2 linked regions of the Homo sapiens genome follow. The protein of the gene in region 2 binds, or shares a complex with, the protein of the main gene of each other region. Each region holds a gene or a part of one and is shown on either strand. Other genes may lie near its edges. The genes, in order: KCNAB2 and KCNA3. A codon is read from its position in the direction of its gene.

Region 1 (16,495 bases), about 100 Mb from region 2:
AGAAGCACCCTTTGAGACGTAACAAGACCAACAACAATGACCACGGCGCCAGCACATGGGTGGTGCTCCCTCTCCTTGCTTGTCCGAAGAGCCTCCAGGGGAAGATGCCCCAAACCTCCAGGAAGGGGCCTGGGGATCGGTAGTGTAACAGGTGTGGCTGGGCACAGTGGCTCATGCCTATAATCTCAGCACTTTGGGAGGCCAAGGTGGGTGGATCGCTTGAGCCCAGGGGTTCCCAGCTAGCCTGGGGAACCTAGTGAGACTCATCTCTACAAAAAGCACAAAAATTAGCCAGGTGTGGTGGTGCGCACCTGTGGTCCCAGCTACTAGGGAGGCTGAGGCTGGAGGATTACTTGAGCCCAGGAGGCTGAGGCTGCAGTGAGCTATGATTGCACCACTGCACTCCAGCCTGGGCGACAGAGCAAGGCGCTGTCTCAACACAAAAAACAACAAAAAACAGGAAAAACAGGTATGGCCCGTGATTCCTGTGGCCAGGTCAGCTCCAGAAACACCTAGCACATCATCAGTCGGTTACAAGGCAACCACCCAGTGCAGGAGTCTGGGTCTCTCTGCCTTTCCTCCCACCTCTCCTGCAGCAGCCCTGTGGGGGAGGGAAGGGCTGTTCTGTCCCTTTAGGGAAGCTGGGGCTGGAGAGGCTGGGGCTGCAGACGGATGCTGTTTCCAGGCCTGGGATGACCATGACCACCGAGGCTCCAATGTGGTGCCCGCTGCCAGCAGAAGCCCTCCCAGCCCCGACCCAAGCCCCACACAGCTGCCAGCCGTGGTCCTGGGCAGGCCCTCAAGGAGAGCACTGGGCCTGCCAGCTGGCTTTCTCCCAGCCCCTGCGTCTGGCCCGGCAGCTCTTCCGGAATGACTGGCTGCTCGCCTCCCTCCCTCCTCCTGTTCCTTCCTGATGCCTCCGCCCCTTGTCTGCGCGGCACTGAACTACATCTCTAAGTGAGACTAGGTGCACGAGTGAGACCCCAAGATGGATAGACAGGGGACAGTCCAGGTGCCTGGACAGCGACTGCTGTGTGGGAAGGTCCCTTTTCCAGGGACGGGAAGGGCCTGCATTTCTCTCCCACAATGAGCCAAGCCTGGAGCTTTGAGTTATGTCACCTGGAGCTTATTTAGTCCTCAGGACAATTCTGCTGTAGTGACCCCGGTCTCCACTTTCCGGGTAAGGAAATCGAGTCATGGAGAGGCCAGGGGACTTGTCTGAGGTCACACAGGTAGCCGGTGGGAGCCCGGGTTCCTCCCAGGACACTCAGGGATGTCCCCGCAGGCTCAAGGTGTTGAGTCAATCCTTGGGGCCTGTGGCAGGTCGAAATGTGTCCCCAAAAGACAGTTGAGATCCTAATTCCTGATACCTGTGAGTGTGACTTTATTTGGAAACAAGGTCTTTGCAAATGTAATCAAGTTAAGATGCGATGGTCCTGGATTAGGGTCAGCCTTCAATCCAATGACTGGGTTTTTGTTTTTTGCTTTTTGTTTTTGAGGCAGGGTCTTGTTCTGTCACCCAGGCTGGAGTGCCAGTGGTTCGATCTCGGCTCACTGCAGACTCTGCCTCCTGGGCTCAGTGATCCTCACTTCAGCCTCAGGAATAGCTGGGATCATAGGCACTTGCCACCATGCCTGGCCATTTTTTGCATTTTTTGTAGAGACAGAGTTTTGCCACATTGCTCAGGCTGGTCTTGAACCCCTGGACTCAAGTGATCCACTTGCCTCAGCCTCCCAAGATGCTGGGATTATAAGCATGAGCCACTGTGCCTGGCCATGACTGGTGTTCTTATAAGGAGAGAGAGATTTGGAGACAGAGGCCCACAGAGAGAAAATGGCCATGGGACGGCAGAGGCAGAGGTTGGAGCGATGTGGCCACAAGCTGAGGAATGCCCAGGCCTGCCGGCACCACCAGAAACTGGGGGAGGCAAAAAGGACCCTCCCTGGGGCCTTCGGAGGAAGTATGGCCCGGCTGCACCTGGCCGTTGGACTTTCACCTCCCAGAACTGGGAAAGAAAAAGCTTCTGTTGTAAACCACCCAGCTTGTTACAGCAGCCTCAGGAAAGTAAAACAGGATCTTTCCCAAGATGGACCCCGTTCCTTGGGGACCCCTCTTTCCCAGGATGCACTTGGCCTTGTAGACAGGTTAACTTGCCATCCCCCCTGGTCTCTGCTGTTTTTCTCCTTCCCCTCCTCCTGCCCTCAGTGCCCTCCTTCCCGCCTGTCCTTTAAGACACACCTGGATTCCCAGCTCTTCCCAGCTGGAAGTGATGGCCTATGGTTAACTGAGCAACTACAGTCTGCTCAATGAACCTGGCAACCAACCAAGTACTTCCTGGTGAACCTGAGCTTGTGGTAAGAGCCTGGGATCTAGAGTCAGAAAGCACAGGAAATCAGGACTCCTGCCCTGCCAGGAGTTCATGACCAAGGGTCAGTGCCCAAGGACCGCAGAGGCTCCCTGCCATCCACATCTGGACTGCAGAGAGAGCCTCAGACCAGCTTCCAGTCAGTCCTGTCTTCCCACCATCTAGGATGCAGCCCGAACGAGACATGTGCTTTGGAAAGTAGATTAAGACCAAGACCACGCAGCGCCTTCCGACCTAAACTCACAGAGGCTGGGGGTGTTCCGGGTGCCAGGGACAGACAAAGCTCTGATCTCAAAGCAGTGCAGATGGGCAAAGAGCAAGGCAACCGAGATGGAGGAGGGGTGAGGAAGACACTCACTCAGGAGAGGGGCTTCTGATGACTTCATAGGTGCTTGTTTAGAGTGGGTGCTTGGGACAGTCTCTTTGGGGACCAAGCTTAGATGTGACAATGGGAAGGAACCAGGCCACGTCTGGGGAGGCAGCCTCCAGGAAGAGGGAACAGAAAGTGCGATGACCCTGTGGATGGAATGAGTTCCCCTTTGGGGATACAGAAGGAAGGGGCGGCGTCCAGAGCCTCCTGAGCGGGAGGGAGAGGGGTCCGAGTTGAAACCAAGGAGGCAGGCTAGGGCCACGTAGAGCCTTGCGGGGAGTTTGGGTTCACTCCCAGCACCATGGGGAGCAGAGGAAAACACAGCTGAACTGAGGGCTGGTGTCCAGTCAGCACAGTGTGGGCCCGGCCACAGCTTCTGGCCTGCCATTCTGAGGCCACATCTCTGAACCCTAACGTCCACAGGGGAGGGGAAGTGTGTGCTAGGCCAGCTGCCCTCACCCTGCTCCCTCATGCTTACACAGGGGCTGTGTGGATTTAAAAATTCATCTTAAAATTCTTTTTAACAGCAATAATTGAGGACAGTTTAAACAATGGGGAAGTGTAGGCCGGGCGCGGTGGCTCACGCCTGTAATCCCAGCACTTTGGGAGGCCGAGGCGAGTGGGTCACTTGAGGTCAGGAGTTTGAGATCAGCCTGGCCAACGTGGTGAAACCCCGTTTCTACTAAAAATACAAAAAATAGCCGGGCATGGTGGCTCGCGCCTGTAGTCCCAGCTACTCGGGAGGCTGAGGCAGGAGAATCGCTTGAACCCAGGAGGCAGAGGTTGCAGTGAGCTGAGATTGCACCACTGCACTCCAGCCTGGGTGACAGAGTGAGACTCTGTCTCAAAAAAAAACTGGGGAAGTGTAACAGGCATGCTGCCGTCCACCTCCATCAGCTACAGCTCAGTTCAGCTGATGAAATGCCCAGGCCAGGGGCACAGCTGGTTTCTTGCGGCACCGGGCAGTGCCTATCCCCAGGTATCATCTTTTCTATATTCATATTTAAGACCAAGTTTAATGGTGACCCAGCCCAGTCGCTGACGGAGAAGAGGTAAGCACAGAATAAATTTATCTGGGATCTTTAATAACTGGTGGTCTGAGTCACGGAGCATCCCACCCACCCCGTCAACCCTGGTGCAGCAAAATGAAATTCACCAGATAGAGTGAGGCCACCACCCTCCCCGCCCCACCTTCACCCTGACCTGGGTGTAACAACAACCTCTGGCCCATCAACTGCTAAAGGGACTTTGTTGGTGGGGTGAGATGGCTCATGCCTGTAATCCCAGCACTTTGGGATGCCAAGGTGGGCAGATCACCTGAGGTCAGGAGTTTGAGACCAGCGTGGTCAACATGACAAAACTCTGTCTCTACCAAAAATACAAAAATTAGTCAGGCATGGTGGTGCATCCCTGCAGTCCCAGCTACTTGGGAGGCTGAGGCAGGAGAATCGCTTGAACCTGGGAGGCAGAGGTTGTAGTGAGCCGAGACTGTGCCACTGCACTGTAGCCTGGGCGATACAGCGAAACTCCAACTCAAAAAAAAAAAAAAAAAAAAGCGTTTGTCTTCTGGTCTCCTCCACTCCCTGAGAAGCGAGATCCCCAAGGGCGTTTCAGCCCCACAGTGGGACCTGCAGTGTCTCCGAGGCTGCTCAGGCATTTTCCTCGGGGCTTCAGGCAAATAAAAGATATGTTCTCTCCACCTGTGTTAGTTCCCTGCGGCTGCCATTACAAAGATCCCCAAATTAGAGGACTTACAACAACAGGAATGTCTTCTCTCCCACTTCTGGAGTCTGAAGTCCAGGTGTGGGCAGTGTTCCCTCCAAACACCCTCATGAGGTGTCCTTTCCTGTCCCTTCCAGCATCTCGTGGCTCCTGTTGGGGCAGGAGACCAGGGTCTGGAGGCAGGGAACTGAAGGCCAATTCCCGCTGATTTCCTATAACTAAGTCAAAAGGAAAACCCCAACTTTCCACGCCCAAGTAACAAAAGAACCAGAGGCTACTCTCTTTGCATGGCGCCCCCTTTTCTGTGTGGCAGACGAAAAATGGAAAATACCTCTGATTTGTCCCCTCCCGCAACCAATCAGGCTGGCTGTGGGCCAAGTCTTCATTTGCATAGAAGTGTAACTTTGTAACTTCATTTCAGCCTCTAATTGGTCACTTTCTGCAACCAATCAGAATGATCACAGGCCACTACTTCATTTACATAAGATGTACACCAGGTAACCAATGGGAAACCTCTAGAAGGTATTTAAACCCCAGAAAATTCTGTATCCAGGTTCTTGAGCCGCTTGCCCACTCCCATCCTGTGGAGTGTACTTTTGTTCCATCTTGGCTCACTGCAACCTCCGCCTCCCAGGTTCAAGTGATTCTCCTGCCTCAGCCTCCCGAATAGCTGGGACTACAGGTGCCCGCCACCACGACTGGTTAATTTTTGTATTTTTAGTAGAGACAGGCTTTTGCCATGTTGCCCAGGCTGCTCTCGAACTCCTGGCCTCATGTAACCCACCCGTCTTGGCCTCCCAAACTGTTGGGATTACAGGCGTGAGCCACCTCACCCGGCTGCTTTTGTTGCTTCATTCTTTCCTTGCTTTGTATGTGCGTTTTGTCCAATTCTTTGTTCAAGATGCCAGGAACCTGGCTGCACACCCTCCACCGGTAACACCGAGACTCCTCAGAGTCCCTTGGGTTGTGGACCCGTCACTCCACTCTCTATCACCACATGGCCTTCTTATAAGGACACCAGTCGTAGGAATTAGGGTCCATTCTAGTCTTGTATGGCCCCATTGCCCCATCTTAATGATATCTGCAATGACCCTATTTCCAAATAATGTCACATTCTTCTTCTTCTTCTTTTTTTTTTTTTTTTAAGACAGGGTCTCACTCTGCCGCCCAGGCTGGAGTGCAGTGGCACAAATAGGGCTCACTGCAGCGTTGAAATCCTGGGTTCAAGTGATCCTCCTGCATCAGCCGCCTGTGTAGCTGGGACCACAGGCATGTGTCACCATGCCTGGCTAATTTTTTGATTGTATTTAGAGATGGGGTTTCGCCATGTTACCCAGGCTGCCTCCTAAAGTGCTGAGACTACGGGCGTGAGCCACCACACCCAGCCTAACGTCATATTCTGAGGTTTAGGATGAATGTGAATTTTGGGGGGTCTTGATTTAACCCACTAAACTATCCTCCATCACAAATCCTGTCCACATAGGAGAGAGCTGAGGTTTCCCTGAGTTTGGAGGATGGGGTCTGGCCCCTCCTGCATCATCGCCTTGTGTCCTCCACCTTCCTCCCTCCAGCCTAGCCGCCTGGGCCTTCTCTTCGCTCCTCCAGCTGAGAGAGGCATCCATTCCAGACCCCTCTCCTCTTGGGCTGGAATGTTCTCCACATCTTCAGATGATCCCTCTCTCAGAGGGTTCCCCCTCGGCCTCCCTGGTCTTTCTTCATTGCATTGTCCTGCTTTGCTGCCTCGGCCAGTGGTCGCTGTTGGAACTTGTCTCCGTGCAAGCTCGCTGCTTCTCTGCCCCCCACACCCCCAGGCCATGGCTGCCGTGAGGTTGGGGACCTGGTTGCTCTTGTTCATGCAGCAGCTCCAGGATCTGGCTCAGCGCCTGGTGCCAAGCAGACTCTCAATAAACATTTACTGAATAAACAAAAGGAATCAATGACCAGCCCCTCATGAATGCCCAGCGTCTCCTTCTTGAGAAATTTCCAGCAGAACAAGGAGGTCAGCTGTGGCCAAACTAGCGGACCCTTTGTCCTTCCTTTACAGCTGGATTTAGGATACAAAGCCTGAAAAACACTGCCATCTAATGGACTCACAGGAGAAGTGTTTTGTTTCTAAATTACAACCACATATTCAAACAATGGGCTGAAGGACCAAACACGCCGTCCACAGGAGAAAACGTTAAAGGAGCGGTCCTGGCCTGCACTCCACTCTGCACAGAGCACGCAGATGATCCCTAGGGTCTGTCTCAGACGGAAGCCAGATATTTAGTGTTGCCAGATAAAACACAGGACGCCCAGTTAAATTTGAAGTTCAGATAAACAATGAGGAACTTTTTAGTATAAGTATGACCCAAATATTGCATGGAACGTATTTATGCTAAAAAGTTACGCGTTTATCTGAACTTCAAATTTAACTGGCAACTCTACAAGGACTGGGTGGGGAGGGTCCTCTTTGGCTGAATGGCTCTCACAAGGGCATGTTCCTGAGAGGCACAGAAGATAAAGCTGTCAATTTGCAATTGAGAGGGATTTACACCAGCCAGAGAACGGTGGCTAGCAGAGCGCTGTCCGAGGTGCTGAATTCAAAGACAAGCGCACTAAAAAGAATGTCCTTTGGAGGTTCCAAGAAAATTCAGACCTACGTGCCTATCATTAAGAGCAGGGGTCTCCAACACCCAGAAACACATTTTTCCCCATGGAGAAACACACCCACACATTTTTACCCCATGGAGAATTTACTAAACTTTTTTTTTTTTTTTGCGCAATGGAGTCTCGCTCTGTCACCCAGCCTGGAGTGCAGTGGTGCGATCACGGCTCACTGCAGCATCAGATTCTTTGGGCTCAGGTAATCCTCCCACCTCAGCCTCCCAAGTAGCTGGGACTACAGGTGCATGGCACCATGCCTACCTAATTTCTTTGTATTTTGGGGTAGAGATGGGGTTTTGCCATGTTGCCTAGGCTGGTCTCAGACTTCTGGGCTCAAGCAATCCACCCACCTCGGCCTCCCAAAGTGCTGGTATTACAGGCATGAGCCACCGTGCCTGGCCTCATTTTCTTCCTTTATACATTTTTGTTGTTGTTGTTGAGACAGTGTCTCACTCTTGTCGCCCAGGCTGGAGTGCAGTGGTATGATCTTGGATCACTGCAATCTCTGCCTCCTGAGTTCAAGCAATTCTTCTGCCTCAGCCTCCTGAGTAGTTGGGACTACAGGTGCGCCCCACTATGCCTGGCTATTTTTTGTATTTTTAGTAGGTGGTGTTTCACCAGGTTGGCCAGGCTGGTCTCGAGCTCCTGATCTCAGGTGATCCACCCGCCTCTGCCTCCCCAAGTGCTGGGATTACAGGTGTGAACCACCGTGCCCAGCCCTTTTATACATATTTATATGGCTGAAATCAGACTTCCCACCCCACCGCCCCCCTGCCCGGCCCTTACCGATACTTCATGCCTGTGCGCTGGGCGGTGCAGCCGTCCAGGGAAAGGCCGTGCATGCGGAGGAAGCTCTCCATGTTCCTGGCCTGGGCAGCCGCCCGCACCTCCCGCAGCCGCTGCAGTTCCAGCGTGTCCGTCTGGCGGACGGGGTGCAGGGCCCATTCAGAGTGGCACCTGCTGCTCACGCTCCGCAGACTCTCGCTGTACGTCATGGACAGCATGGTGCCGCCTGGCTTGGGAGCTGCCACTGTCCAGACGGTGATGAGTTAGACAGTGTGCCAATGCCCCACGTGCCCCAGGCTGGATGGCTGGCCCTGGGGCAGGGGGCAGCTGCAGCGAAACATCCTTTAACTAGTGCCACCACCAGGTCTTGGTGTCTAGGAGTGGGACCCGGCCCCTGGATGTAAACACCTCTTGGCATGAGATTCTCAGTCCGCAAAGCAGTGCTTGCCAGGAACTCTGGCTAAGCTGCCCTTTTCTGTCCCCTGCATCTGTGAGACAAGCACAGGCAAAGCTGCATTCCAGGCAGGACAGCTGCACCCCAAGTGTCCAAATGAAAACGGGAGCACAGAGAGCATGCAGAGCCTGAGCCCCCCAAATGCTGAAGACCAGGGTTGCTGTTCCGTGGTGACTGCGGTACCATGTCATGGTGGTCTCTTGAGGTGGTTCCCAGGGTAAAACTGGGTCAAAAGCTGTCCCTGGGAAAGCAGCGCAGGGCACACCTGTTGCTGAAGTAAACTCTCCTGTAATTATGCCAGGGAGGCACCTCACCCCCGCATGCCAGGTGGCCCCAACATGGGAAGGTCCTATTTGCTCTTAGCCTTGTAAAGGGAAATGCTATCTATACAACACATTCCCTGCTTGTTGAACGCATCATTGCACCGCAGAGATCTTTGGGCTTCATGCTTTTTGCAAAAGAAAAACTGAGCAGAATGCATTTAAGCAGGTTGCGGAGGAGAGTGGCCTGGGGAAATAGGCTTAGTTGGGACAGGGGAGTTTCAAAGTTTCTATGTGAAGAACCACTGAAATATAGCTGAAATGATGAATGCACATTCTTGGAAACTAAAAGCAATGTAAATGTCCATCAGTAGGGAAACTGGTTACCTAAGTGACAGTCCATCCACATAGTGGGAATTTGTGCTGCTGTCAAGAATGAGGCATCTCAACATAGTGAGTGAGTGAGCCCTGAGAGATAGTGGACAATTAAAAGGCCAAGGGAGAAAGCGTGTGTCCAGAACGCAACCACTGGTGTTAATTCATGTGCACAACAGTGAGTGGACCAGTGAGGGCAGCCTCGGGGCTGAGTCCTCACCCTGCAGAGTCTGTGACAGCGCAATGAGGACATGGAGGCAGGCTCAACACAAAGGAGGTCCCCAGTCCAGTGACCCTCACCCCACCTGACTGCAGCCTCGGCCATGGCCCAGGTGGCCTGCACTGCAGCTCTGCATCATCACCAGAGAGAGAAGGTGCAGAGGGGAAGTCACCATTTCAGCTGGGTCAGCTGCACAGTGGGATCCTGGAACCTGGCCTGGGAGCTGGAAAGGAACCAGCACTGTCCCCACCTTCTGCCCCAAGAGAGGAAAAGTTCGATTATCCCTGGGAAGGAGCTGGGAGGGCTATCCTGGGAGCTGAGGCAGCTACAGAGGCTTTAGCACGGTCCTTGAAGGGGGTTGAGATGTCCTGGAGTTGCCCCAGGCTGGGCCTTTCCTGGGGTGAGCTCCAGGGGCCAAAGGAAAGACCCACAAGGGGCAGGAGTTTGTGATGAGCCCCATGTGCTGGGGTCCTTCCAGAATGGGTGACCAGCCTGCTGACCTTTCACTGCTCTGCCTATATGTGCACCCAGAGAGGGGGGCCACCTCCAGGAGCCCCACAGCTGCCTCTTTCATGGGGGTTTCCCTGCAAGTATTCGTCTGTATCTTATTTGCAGGGACCTTCATTCATGTCTGCCCTGTTGTGCCCAGCATGAGGCCTAGCTCAGAGCAGAGCCTACAAATGCCTGTTGCATGAACATGCAATTGAGGTAGGGAAGGTGGGCTCAGAGAAGAGCTAAAGAGAGACCAGCAGGCAAGGAGCCCCCGAGGAGCCCCTACAGGGAGCTGGGTAGCAGTGTCCACACAGGCCTTGGCCCCACCACCCTGGTCAGGGCTGGATGGCCCCCTCCCTAAAGGCGAGCAACCAGTCGTCCTTGGGGAGCCTGCTGTGCTGTCTGCACCTCTGCACCTCTGTCTGATGGGCATGGCTCCCGGGGGTGGGGGGGCTGCGTTTCCCATCCTACCCTCTGTCCCACACAAACCACACCATGTGCCTCTTTCCTGCTGTGATCTGTCTCCATGGCGCTCGCCATCATCCACCTTGCTGATTCCTTTCTAGCTGTCCTGTGTGCTGAATTCACTCCCCTGAAGGTTGAGTCCAGGAGGGCAGGGACCCTTCTGCCTCCTGCCACTGCCACTGCCCCCTGCTCAGTGCCCATGGGAGTGCCCCTCGTGTACAGAGGAGGGACTCAGATACTTGTAGAACAGCAACCAAGGCCCAGGCTCCAAAAGGCCAACCAGGGCTATACCTGGGCATTTCCTGGCAGTGCCAGGCAGCTGTTGGTGGGGGCGGGGCTGGCTTCCTGCCTCAGGCCCAGTGGCTCTTTGCAGGTCGTCCTCTCTTGCTGGGGGGTTCCCATGCCAGGAGTTGCATTCACCACTGCTCATTTCTATGCTGGGAGGGGTGGTGGCTGCTGGACCTCTGGACGCTAAAGCAGGCGGGTACCCTGGCATGGAAAGCCGTCTGCCTTCCAGGAGAATCGCTCTGGAGGGCAGAGAGGCCCGGACTCCAGGAGAGGTTCACCTTAGGAAATGAGGCCCTTGGCACCCACAGACAGCAGCACCAGCTTCCCTTCCCTGCCTACTGGCCGGCCACTCCCTTCCCTCCATGCGCGTGGCAGGCAGCTGCTTCTGAGGTGGCCATGTGGCTAGCTGCCAGTCCGGTGTGGGGCAAATGGGGGCCAACCCTCACTTCCCTGAGGTCTGTGTTTAGAAAGAAGGCCAGCTGGGCAGGCTGTAGCCCCAGGGCTCTTTCTGAAAGGCAGGACCAGCCTCAGACACGCAAGTTCCCTGCCTGGCCCGACCAGGCTGAGATCAATAGCCATTAGCTTTCAAGACATTACTCACAAAAAGCAATCCGGGTCTGGTTTGGCTCTAGAAATATAGCCAAGGCCCCGGGGCTGGAGGACGGGGTGGCTGAGTGCCCAGCTTCTGGACAGGGGCAGCTCTGCTTGTCACCTGCTCATGGTGTGGCCCAGGCAGGCACCTTGACCGCTCCCGGCCTCAGCCTCCACATCTGTGAGGTAGGCTGGGCAGAGGCCTGTTGTACCAGGCTGCTGTGGGCTGCATGAGATGAGGCTTTGGACAACTGGGTGGGAGTTGGTGACGCAGCCAGAAGACAGTCTGTTGGGGGGCGTGGGATAAGACACCAATTATGATAAATGCTGTGGAAAGAAAAATCCACCACCAGGGGCCAGCAGGCAGGGCGGGAAGGAACTTGTGACCACAGGTTTGAGTGAGAGGAGTGAGCCACACAGACACCAAATCTCCCTAGAAAATGCTTAAGGGAAGAGAACACAGATGTGAATAATCGCCCCCTTCACAACAAGATGGTGGAAGGCTGAGTTTGGGGATGTGAGTGGGAGAGGGGAGAGAGGGCAGGACAGAATGGGTTTTGTGGCCAGGATTTAGAGGGCGTCCCTCCCTGTGGGGGCCCGCTTGCAATCTTTCCTTAGAGCTCATGTTGCAGCCCTGGGAGCAGACCTGCAGGTGGGAGCCCTGCGGCACGGAGGGAGCCCAGAGCCTCTTGCTACGAGCTTGTCCCCATGGTGCCAGGGCAGGGCTTGGGCCAGGGAACTTGCGGGCACAGAAATGGCAGCCTTTGGCATGGGGTGGTGGGGTGAGGAGCAGGGCTGGTGCCATGAGGAGCCCATGGCCGCTGGACTCCCCTGAAGGTTGGGTCCAGGAGGGCAAGGACTCTTCTGCCTGCTGCCACTGCCCCCTGACCAGTGCCCACGGGAGTGTCCCGTGCACAGAGGAGGGGCTCAGATATTTGTAGAACAGTAACCAAGGCCCAGGCTCCAAAAGGCCAACCAGGGCTATACCTGGGCATTTCCTGGCAGTGCCAGGCAGCTGTTGGTGGGGGCGGGGCTGGCTTCCTACCTCAGACCCAGCAGCTCTTTGCAGGTCACCCTCTCTTGTGTGGGGGGGACTCCCATGCCAGGACTCTGTACAGCGGGGGCTCCCTGTGGTCCTGAAGGCTCATGACTCTGGGAGGGCTGCCCCAGGGGAAGAAGGATAGGTACAGGCAGAAGGCAAAGAGGCTCTGCCCGTTACCAGCGGTGCCTGGGGACAGAGGACACCTCTGGACTCCCTCACACTGGGGCTCTATTCTGGGCTTTTGCCGAGACTCTAGCAGCGTCAGGTCCTTGGACGAAGGGCCCCCCGGTAAGACACTGCAGGGAGGAGAGAGTGGCCCCACTGCCGGGCTCCTGCCTCAGGGTCCCCACTTCTCCTGTGCTCAAGAGCACAGTGACCCCTGACTTCCAATTCAAAATATCCCAAATCCCGGCCGCTTTCCAGAGTGAGGGTCTCTGAGCCCTGACACTCCCTCACCACCCTGGTACCAAGAAAAACGAGCCCCTCCTCAATAGCCATTGCTAATTACGTGGAACCCACAAGTTCTTTCCTGGGCTGGGCCTGCCTGGTGCAAATCTATTCCTGTAGATCAGGGGCCCAGGGGAATTCACGTGAATTAACACCGTGACATGGAAAAATGCAAGGAAGATGTTAACCTCATTAAGTCAGTAGGAATCACTACCTCACCCCAGACTCCTCTACCTGGAATTTCTGAATTGTTCTGTTTACTGAAAGCCAACAAAGCATACAACCTGAGATTGAGAAGGAACCCTGAGCATCTCTTCTGAATGGTGACACCTGTCCAGAGAGCAGAGAGCCCAGCCAGAGTTCTCCAAAGCGGAAATGGAAGGGGAGCTGCTACCATTCCGGGGTGCGGCTCTACAAGACACGGCATTGCTTCAGTGCAAACACAGAATGATTTTCGCTCAAGGACAATCAGCAAACTGAGGCCCAAACAAGCAGCCCCTGGCTCCCTCAGCACGTGCTTCCTGCACAGACATTTCAGACAAGACCAAACCTCCCTGACAGCGCTCTGGGCAAAACTGGAAAATGCTGAATCTTAATCAATGGTGAACACAGCGAGGTACGAGCTAGACGCCCGTGTCTCCGGCAGATGGGAAAACAGTCAGCCTTGGGCAGGTCTGGGCTGTGAGCAGACTCAAGCGAGAGGTGCTGCCCGGCTGAAACCTGCCGCCCACCACCCCATCCATCACGGTCATTCCAAGTTTACCTCAGGCTGGCTCTTTTTTAAGGTCTTCTGCTTTGCAAAAACACGGAGGGTCTAATTCCGGATCAGACAAAACCACCCCAAAATATGGTCTCCTCTGTTATTTTTCATTCCCGCGGATGCGTGCCCCCAAGCGGCATCTCCACTAGGAAGGTAGCGGCTGAAGGGAGGACTCACCTGCCTTCGTGGGGGCGTCTGCTCGTTAAAAAGGCCACAGTCTGGTTTATTAGGGATCACCAGACACTCTAAGGATCTGGCACAGCGGCTTTTTCATTAGGGAGTGTCACTGCAGGACGTCAGAAGCAATTGGTGAATGAGATGAGTCCCACCAGAGTCGAGTTTTGAGGCAGCGAGTCCATTAGTTCTATTAGGGCGTTTTCATCTCAGTGAAAGAGGCTGAATTATTCACGAGTGCCTCTTCCCCTAAAAGCTCGGGAAGTGCAGTTCCGTGCTGCAACCTGGCAAGGCTGACTCCCGGTGCGTGGGGTTGGGGTGCAGCCCAAGGTGAGGGGGAGGTCCTGCCCGTCCCTCAGGCCTACCCTTGCTGCCTCCACCATCCCCGCGTGCCAGAAACACAAACCTTTGGACCCACAGGTCGAAAGGGGCAGGCCTTGCTCTTTGGTATCTGAGTGCGGGACACAGAGCCTGTGGCTTCCGCATACCACTCAACTCTGAACTGTGTCTGCAGCAGGGGAGCTGGGGGCCCCGTCGTATGGGGCCACCACCCACAGCCAAGGGGGTCTGGAGAGGCCTCTGCTCAGCACACGCGCATGCTCCTCCTGTCCTCTGGGGATACACCCGAGATGGGTATATCTGATACTACCGGTAGCTATAAATGGCAGGAAGGCCCCAGAACCTGCTATTTGGACTCCACACTGCCACTCACTCCAGGCAGGGACACAGGAGCCCTTCTCCACGGCACATGTCCTGACCTGGGGTTTGGGAAATGCTTTGAGACTAGGCCAAACAAGGCTGAGCTCTGGGATGAGGCTAAGTGCTGAGCCCCAACCCCAGGGTCATGACCCCCAGGGTCACTGCGTGTCACAGGATGCCAGCAAAGTCCCAGCGTGACATCATCTTCCGGCTGAGAAAGCGCGCCAGTGAATGTGGGATTTTGAATGGAGGCAGAACCGTCCCCCCATGATGAATGAGCAAACAGTGGTAGCTGCCATGGGGGAAGGTGGGGGACAGGAAATCAGTGCCCCAGTCGCAGTGTGGAAGGTAAATGAAGTGGGAGGCTGGGAGAGCACGTAGAGTCTGGAGGTGCCTGGCTGCGGGTGACTAGCTGCGAAGGCCTTGGCAATTGAAATGGTTTGTCCCCAAAGGCCCAAGCCCACTCTGTCAGATCCCCACATGTCGCCCTGGTCGGGGGGCCTGCGCCTCACTACTGGGTGGTAGCTGCAGCCTAACATGCTCCGAATGAGGCCCTCTCCTTCCCTGGGTCCACTGCTCCTCTCTGTCCCTTTCTGTCTCAGCACCTGCCCATCAGTGGCCAAGCCCTGTGGACGTGGCTTCTGACGTCCTTTTTTCAGGCCCTGCACCCCTTCATTCTCTCTCTGTGCAGTTCCTGGAGCTCAGCCGTCCTGCACCTTTCCTGGGCACTGTCTGGTCTCCTTGCATTAGCCTCTCTCTTCCCTGTCTTACTCCCTGCTACCAGGCTTCCTTCCTAGAGCAGATCTCTGACCCCTGCCCTGCTCAAACACCATAGATGGCTCCCCAGTGCCCTCTGAGTGCATCTGTGCCCCATCGCTAGGCATTCGAGGCCCCCCACCAACATCCACCTCTACAGCCAGCCTCTCTTTATTCTCCATCATGTCCCTGATGGCCCAGGCTGGGTAACTGTCACTTCCTGTTCTCTGTGCACACCTCTGAGCTGTGGCTCAGGCTGTTGTATCTACTGGAATATGCTTCCCAGCCTCTGCGTTGAATCCTGCCCAGCCTTCAAGGACCAGATCCAAGCCCCTGCTGCCTTCTCCGTGAAGTCTTCTTGGCTCTCAGCTGGCTGTGGCCCCTCCTTCCTTGGACCCCAAATGCTCTTTGGGCTTCTCCTGTGACGTGCTCTGCCTTCTGGAGATCATCAGGGCTATTTGAGACCTGGGGTACATGGAAGTATTGCTCCCAATCCTTCACCCCTCTCTGTACCCATGCCCTTTGCCATGTGACTTTATAGCTCCTCCCACTGGTGGGGGCAATATATTTCCAGCCCCTTGACTGTGGGCTGGTTCCTGAGACTTACTTTGGCCAAAAGCACGTGAGCAGAGGTGACAGCGCTCTGACCCCAACCATAGGCCGTAAGAGACCCTGCATGTTTCTGCTTTTCCTCTGGTACTTTTGCCATGGGAAGGACATGCCTGGGGTAGGCCCCAGTTAAGCATGGGAAGATGGAGGACATGGGGATCCAACTTGCAGCTTGGAGACAAACCCAGCCAAGCCAGCTTAGACGAGCTGCCTGGTCAACCCGCAGACACGGGAGCAAGGAAGAGATGCTGATTGCTGCGTGGCACTGAGTTTTGGAGTTGTTTGTTATGCAGCACTTGGTGGACAGCTGATTGGCACAGTGTCCTATGCCAATTCCTTGCCTGGGAGCTGCATGGGGGCAGGGCACATGCCTTGAACGCCTCTGCCCTGTGAGAGGGCCAGGCCTAAGTAACTGAAAGAACCATCCAATAGCCATGTTTAGTGGTATGCTTGGTGTGATGAGGGTGCCCTACTAGGAGTGGCCCCCAGCCTGTTAACAAACAAAGACCCTAGCCCTTAGAGGTCATCTCCAGAGCCCCCACAAGAGACACCCAAGTGACCCCCTGGAGATCCAACGGGTAGGATGGCCAGAGCCTGTGGGCACCAGAATTGGGGCTGAGAGCCTAGAGGGTAAGCTTCAGAGCTTCCCTTGGGGCCAGGAAGGCCACCTGGAAATGAAGGTTCTTAAGCACAGGGATCCCGGCGGGGGGGACAACATGTTGAGCCTGTGGGGTTTTGAGGGCCTTGAGTGGGCTGGAAGGCTCTCACTTGGTCACTGGATAATTTACTTGGCCCCTCCTAGGGGCAGGCCCTTGGAGCTGGATGGTCTGTACCTGTGGGCAGCCCTTTTGAGCTGGCAGGTCTGCACCTGGGATTTTCCTGCCTGCTCATCAGACCTCACCCCTTCCCTTCTGAGGACTGAGGCTGCTCCCGGCTCTCTGAGGATGCAGTTCAGGTACATGTTTTGTTTCAC
Region 2 (7,266 bases):
CATCATCCATGTCCCTGCAAAGGGCATGAACTCATCCTTTTTTATGGCTGCATAGTGTTCCATGGTGTATATGTGCCACATTTTCTTTATCCAGTCTATCATTGATGGGCATTTGGGTTGGTTCCAAATCTTTGCTATCGTAAATAGTGCTGCAATAAACATACATGTGCATGTGTCTTTGTAGTAGAATGATTTATAATCCATTGGGTATATACCCTGTAATGGTATTGCTGGGTCAAATGGTATTTCTGGTTCTAGATCCTTGAGGAATCGCCACACTGTCGTCCACAATGGCTGAACTAATTTGCATTCCATGCTCATGGATAGGAAGAATCAATATCGTGAAAATGGCCATACTGCCCAAAGTAATTTATAGATTCAATGCTATCCCCATCAAGCTACCCCTGACTTTCTTCACAGAATTATAAAAAACTACTTTAAATTTCATATGGAACCAAAAAAGAGCCCATATAGCCAAGACAATACTAAGCAAAAGAACAAAGCTGGAGGCATCACACTACCTGACCTCAAACTATACTACAAGGCTACAGTAACCAAAAGAGCATGGTACTGGTACCAAAACAGATATATAGACCAATGGAACAGAACAGAACAGAGGCCTCAGAAATAACACCACACATCTACAACCATCTGATCTTTGACAAACCTTACAAAAACAAGCAATAAGGAAAGACTCCCCTATTTAATAAATGGGAAAACTGGCTAGCCATATGCAGAAAACTGAAACTGGACCCCTTCCTTATACAGTATACAAAAATTAACTCAAGATGGATTAAAGACTTAAACGTAAAACCTAAAACCATAAAAACCCTAGAAGAAAACCTAGGCAATACCATTTAGGACATAGGCATGGGCAAAGACTGCATGAGTAAAAGCAATGCGAACAAAAGCCAAAATTGACAAATGGGGCCTAATTAAACTAAAGAGCTTCTGCACAGCAAAAGAAACTATCATCAGAGTGAACAGACAACCTACAGAATGGGAGAAAATTTTTGCCATCTATCCATCTGACAAAGGGTTAATATCCAGAATCTACAAGGAACTTAAACAAATTTACAAGAAAAAAACAATCCCATCAAAAAGCGGGTGAAGGATATGAACAGACACTTCTCAAAAGAAGACATTTATGCAGCCAACAAACATGAAAAAAAGCTCACCATCACTGGTCATTAGAGAAATGCAAATCAAAACCACAATGAGATACCATCTCATGCCAGTTAGAATGGCGATCATTAAAAAGTCAGAAAACAACAGATGCTGGAGAGGATGTGGAGAAATAGGAACGCTTTTACACTGTTACTAGGTGCTATTTCTCCATTCATTTATCTGTAATTGTGGATCAGGACCTCTAGCCCTGCCTTGTCCCACTCTCAAACACTTCTGAGCTAATCCTAAATGCTGCTTACCATCTGGCAAACAACTGGTGAACTATTTCTGGGATTGATGTGGTCAGTAGGAAACACAAACTATGCCTAGAGCAACACAGAAAGGCCAAACACCAAGATTTATTTACCCTTGCTGTTTGCAAACCTGACGGTTTTAGTCAGGCTCTAGTATTGCAGACTGAAATATGAGGAAATCCTGCACATGCTCAGAGAAGCTGTTGGCTTTGCCACAGTTCTACGCCTAAACGTTATAATAATATTATTATTATCCCACAGGGGTGTTATGAGGATTAATGAGACATTTTCAAATCACTTTGAGCTACTCTGTTGGGGGTACTAAATAAATGCTATGTTTTCCTCTTGAAATGCCATTTTTGGCATTGATTTGTTGTGATGGGTTCGGCTGTCCAACAGGGCTAGAATGAGCCCACCAACTCATTTTCTATAGACAACAGACGAGCCGTCAGAAGGAGTGGTTTTCAGTTAAGATAAATATGAATTGAAGTGAACTAGTCGGCAATCAGAAGCAAATAGGCTGCTGTTAGAAATCTAGTATATTAAGTACTCACAGTGATCAACACAAGCGTTGCACAGTGTGATACAGTAAAGCAAACACTGGATTTGGAAATGGTCCAAGATTTTAGGCCCAGCTCTGCTGCTAACTAGCTATGTGAGCTTAAGCAAATTGCTAAACTTCTCTGGGCCCCAAATACAAAGTAAGGACTTTATATGTGTCCTAAGAAGCACATAATCAAAGTCTTCCAGACAAGGCAAATACATGAAAGGGAATGGAAATAGTCACTTATGAAGGAAAGACATTTCACAGCTGGGAGAAGCTTGTGACCATTTGTCACAGGACTATCCTCTGCTCTGGTCTTCCTTGCCATTGATTAATATTAATTTCAGTACTAATTCCTGCAAAAGAAGGAATAAATCATTTTCTAAGTCAGACATAGAAGTACATGAAACATCTGGTCTTTAAAAATAGGGTCTTTGCCTTTCCATGAGCTATCATTGCAGCAAGCAGTCTGTCTCATTCTAAGATTTAAATATATGAATGATTGATTATACTGCTACTCTAATCACCAGCTCAAAATATATACGCAAAATAATGAGGTGGCTGTCACATTCCAGTGTTCTGGAGTTTTGTAAGAGAAAGAGTTTTACGTGGTTGCCCAGTTTTGCCATTCCACAACATAAGTGACTGCCTGCATTGTCTGGCACTGACCAGGAGGTGAAACGGAAGATGAAGGGACAATAAAAGGACATGGGTGCCTGTTGTGCCCAGGAGAGCCGGAGGTGGAAATCCTATGGAATAAATGAGCAGTGTTTTCTATGGTGAGCTCAGTTTTTCCTCACTCCTCATCCTAGGAATCACAGCAGCATCTTGGGCTCAAAAAGAAGAAATGTTGAAACTCCAGAGCAGATAGCAACGCAAAGAGACACTCCTTGGGGAATTCAATCTGACAAGTATGTACCAAGTCTCCACCATTTACAAGGCACTTTGGTAGTTGCTAGAAATATAAGTTGGCTAGGACCTACTCTGTGCCCTAGAGAACCCCATGGTTGGGAGTGGTGGTGGGAAGTATTGACCACAAATCACTTACTTAAAATTGAATTGTCAGCTAACTTTGGGTGGGTGAGGAGCTGTCTAGACAATAGTTCCTCTTCTGTAAATGATTTGAATGATACAATAAAAAACAGACTTTTTAAAGCCTAGGGTTGAGTTATATTAGATTGCTAAAATTTCTGGAAACAAATTGTGTTCAAAGTAACCACAATAATTTGGAAAAATAAGTTTAAAGAAGATACATGTAAGTTATCTCTGGGCCCAGATCAAGCAAGAGGTACAAGTTGCAGAATGAATGTCCTTCCAGTTTAACAACTAGAGCGCTGCAAATTCCCTACCACAAGGGCAGTGCCAAAATATTAAGTAAAAAGTCTAGGTACAGGTCCTGCTCTCATCCCTTCCACGACAGGCTTGAGTCATAAAGCTGGACTTTCTAACCACACAACTTCGACTTCGTGAATTTCCTTTCCCATTTTTCCTCTTATTTCCCCGCCAACAGGAAACCTGTGTAGTGGATAAAGACCAGGCTGTCACTGCTAATCCCAATCAGAAACTTGGTCCTTGATTCTTCCCAGTGGCCGACATCTCCGCTGCGAAAACGGGTGTGAACTATTCACTAAAGCAGCAGGGCCCGAACGCCTTTAACAATCCATTTCCTTCGGACTCCGTTTGCGAAGCCCATCAGCACCCATTACTCCCTTTGGCTTCGCATCCTAGCAGAAGCTAAATTGTTTAAACCCCCGCTCCTCCCCAGGGTTTGGCGGTCCTCGACCCTCAAGGGAACCTGGGATGCCGGCGCCAGGCTTGCCTCTGGCCCAGGGCGCCCGCCTGGCCTGCACTCCCTCCCTGGACACTGGGCCCGCCTGCCCTCCCCGGGCTGTACCTAGGGGTGTGGAGGCCAGGGGGCCGGCGCCCGCGGGGCCGCGGCGGGAGCTCTCCCGGCCCACGGGCCGAAAACCCTGGCGACTGGGACGCGGCCAGGCGGGCCGGGGGCGAGGGGCGCTGACCAGAAGCGGGCGGAGCCTAGGGGCCCGGGCCGGCAGCCTGACTCCCCGTGGGCCGGCTCTGCTGGGTGGGCATTCCCGCGGGGCGCCGAGGTACAACATGAGGGCTCTTTCGCTGACACCGAGGGGCCTTGAGGGCTGCAAGAAATGCAGGCCCGGCGGCTGCCCCCGAGAGCGGGACGCGCGCCCGCGCGGTGGGCGGGAATCCTAAGGGGACGCGGAGGCGGGCGCGCGCCCCGCAGGGGAGGGGGCGGAGAGCGCGAGAAGGAGGGAGGAGGCGTCCCCGTGCGGGAGCCCGGCTGACCGCGCCAGACCCAGACAGAGCATCGCGGCTTTGGCTGCAACAGGCGGTGGGCTCGGCTCGGGGGCGGAGGCGGCGAAAGGGCGGGGAGCGCGAGGAGGAGCGACCTGGCCTCACCGCTGCCGCCTCTTCCCCGCCGCATGGACGAGCGCCTCAGCCTTCTGCGCTCGCCGCCGCCGCCCTCAGCCCGCCACCGCGCCCACCCTCCTCAGCGCCCAGCGAGCAGCGGCGGTGCCCACACGCTGGTGAACCACGGCTACGCGGAGCCCGCCGCAGGCCGCGAGCTGCCGCCCGACATGACCGTGGTGCCCGGGGACCACCTGCTGGAGCCGGAGGTGGCCGATGGTGGAGGGGCCCCGCCTCAAGGCGGCTGTGGCGGCGGCGGCTGCGACCGCTACGAGCCGCTGCCGCCCTCACTGCCGGCCGCGGGCGAGCAGGACTGCTGCGGGGAGCGCGTGGTCATCAACATCTCCGGGCTGCGCTTCGAGACGCAGCTGAAGACCCTTTGCCAGTTCCCCGAGACGCTGCTGGGCGACCCCAAGCGGCGCATGAGGTACTTCGACCCGCTCCGCAACGAGTACTTCTTCGACCGCAACCGGCCCAGCTTCGACGCCATCCTCTACTACTATCAGTCCGGGGGCCGCATCCGCCGGCCGGTCAACGTGCCCATCGACATTTTCTCCGAGGAGATCCGCTTCTACCAGCTGGGCGAGGAGGCCATGGAGAAGTTCCGCGAGGACGAGGGCTTCCTGCGGGAGGAGGAGCGGCCCTTGCCCCGCCGCGACTTCCAGCGCCAGGTGTGGCTGCTCTTCGAGTACCCCGAGAGCTCCGGGCCGGCCCGGGGCATCGCCATCGTGTCCGTGCTGGTCATCCTCATCTCCATTGTCATCTTCTGCCTGGAGACGCTGCCGGAGTTCCGCGACGAGAAGGACTACCCCGCCTCGACGTCGCAGGACTCATTCGAAGCAGCCGGCAACAGCACGTCGGGGTCCCGCGCAGGAGCCTCCAGCTTCTCCGATCCCTTCTTCGTGGTGGAGACGCTGTGCATCATCTGGTTCTCCTTCGAACTGCTGGTGCGGTTCTTCGCTTGTCCTAGCAAAGCCACCTTCTCGCGAAACATCATGAACCTGATCGACATTGTGGCCATCATTCCTTATTTTATCACTCTGGGTACCGAGCTGGCCGAACGACAGGGCAATGGACAGCAGGCCATGTCTCTGGCCATCCTGAGGGTCATCCGCCTGGTAAGGGTCTTCCGCATCTTCAAGCTGTCGCGCCACTCCAAGGGGCTGCAGATCCTCGGGCAAACGCTGAAGGCGTCCATGCGGGAGCTGGGATTGCTCATCTTCTTCCTCTTTATTGGGGTCATCCTTTTCTCCAGCGCGGTCTACTTTGCCGAGGCAGACGACCCCACTTCAGGTTTCAGCAGCATCCCGGATGCCTTCTGGTGGGCAGTGGTAACCATGACAACAGTGGGTTACGGCGATATGCACCCAGTGACCATAGGGGGCAAGATTGTGGGATCTCTCTGTGCCATCGCCGGTGTCTTGACCATCGCATTGCCAGTTCCCGTGATTGTTTCCAACTTCAATTACTTCTACCACCGGGAGACAGAAGGGGAAGAGCAATCCCAGTACATGCACGTGGGAAGTTGCCAGCACCTCTCCTCTTCAGCCGAGGAGCTCCGAAAAGCAAGGAGTAACTCGACTCTGAGTAAGTCGGAGTATATGGTGATCGAAGAGGGGGGTATGAACCATAGCGCTTTCCCCCAGACCCCTTTCAAAACGGGCAATTCCACTGCCACCTGCACCACGAACAATAATCCCAACTCTTGTGTCAACATCAAAAAGATATTCACCGATGTTTAATATGTGATACAAGTGACATGCTGTGCTCAGTATTGTGTGGAACGTGCCCCCTTGGTCTGCCTATGCCCTTGTTTTATACATTTCCAGACCATTCATCAAGGAAAGGACCTGAAGAAGTGGAAAGCACACTTCATTCTCCCTCTCCCTGCTGCTTCATACTGAAACAGGTGCCTGTTTTGCAAGTGGGCTGCATTCTCTCAGCTCTCCTTTTCCCTCTTACCCTCTCTCTCTTAACATTGTAAACAACAGACTTACGTTAAACTTCATTTCTAGTACACGCCCTATTTAAAAAAGAGCAGTACATCCTGGGAGGAAATGAAACTAAAGAACAGTTAGAGTAACTGTTTAACCTCAGAATTTTAAAGGCAGTTGTTTCTTTCCTAAGCACATCAATTCGTAGTAAATGATGCTTCGGTTTGATGGACCTTTCAACGTTATTTATTGAATATGTATTTCGGTTGCCTACCCTGTAGATATGTGGATGAAGAGTCTAACTAGAATAATGACTTGTAAACCCACCATGAGTTATTTGGTTTTTGACTTAAATTCCTATTTGAATCCCCTTTCCCGGAATTTTAAGTGTCTCTACAACTTTGAATAAAGGGAAATGCCCAAGATGTCCTGATCTGACTAATTAGTTTAATTCTTTCGGGCTTGCTAAGCATTTCTAAAGCATTAGACTAACAGATTCCTGTGAAGTTCTGTGCATATGTCCCAGCCCCAACAACTATCAAAGTCTAGAAACAGATGTTTTCAGTGTTGCTGAGAGAAACAAAAAATTTCCTAATGCATCTGAGAGATAAGCTTCGGCAGTATCACAAGAAGATTAAAGTGGCAGACACCCCTTCCAGCGGAAGTTACTAATTCGGACCTGACTGATGCAGTTTCCATAGCAACCCATGTTTCCTGGGAAACCCGAAAAAGGTTGTCATGGCATCTCTTGCTCTCTAGCCCCACCTCCCAGCCCCTGCCGTTTCCACAGTAACCTTTCCAGATGGTTCCTACTTAAATGATTTCATAAGGAAAACCACTGTTTGAATAAGCCGCACAAAAAATAAAGTTAAGTCTGAGACTCTAAGGAGGTGAAATGAATCCCAAATGCATTTTTTAACTATGA

The links.
Region 1: the proteins of KCNA3 (region 2) and KCNAB2 are in contact, whole or in part, in a cryo-EM structure (PDB 7EJ2), measured with the Homo sapiens proteins. Residues at the interface, in NP_002223.3 of Homo sapiens: Pro133 (codon at 4,818), Met137 (codon at 4,830), Phe140 (codon at 4,839), Pro142 (codon at 4,845), Leu143 (codon at 4,848), Asn145 (codon at 4,854), Tyr147 (codon at 4,860); in NP_001186789.1 of Homo sapiens: Met196, Tyr199, Ser200, Arg203, Glu231, His234, Lys235, Ile236.

Annotation. Positions count from the first base shown.
Region 1 is NC_000001.11:6,043,150-6,059,644, reverse strand, and holds the start of KCNAB2 (voltage-gated potassium channel subunit beta-2), read right to left. Parts: upstream 13,758-16,495; 5' UTR 13,462-13,757; intron 8,135-13,461; 5' UTR 8,109-8,134; coding exon 7,891-8,108; intron 1-7,890.
Region 2 is NC_000001.11:110,671,965-110,679,230, reverse strand, and holds KCNA3 (potassium voltage-gated channel subfamily A member 3), read left to right. Parts: upstream 1-4,290; 5' UTR 4,291-4,421; coding exon 4,422-6,149; 3' UTR 6,150-6,766; downstream 6,767-7,266.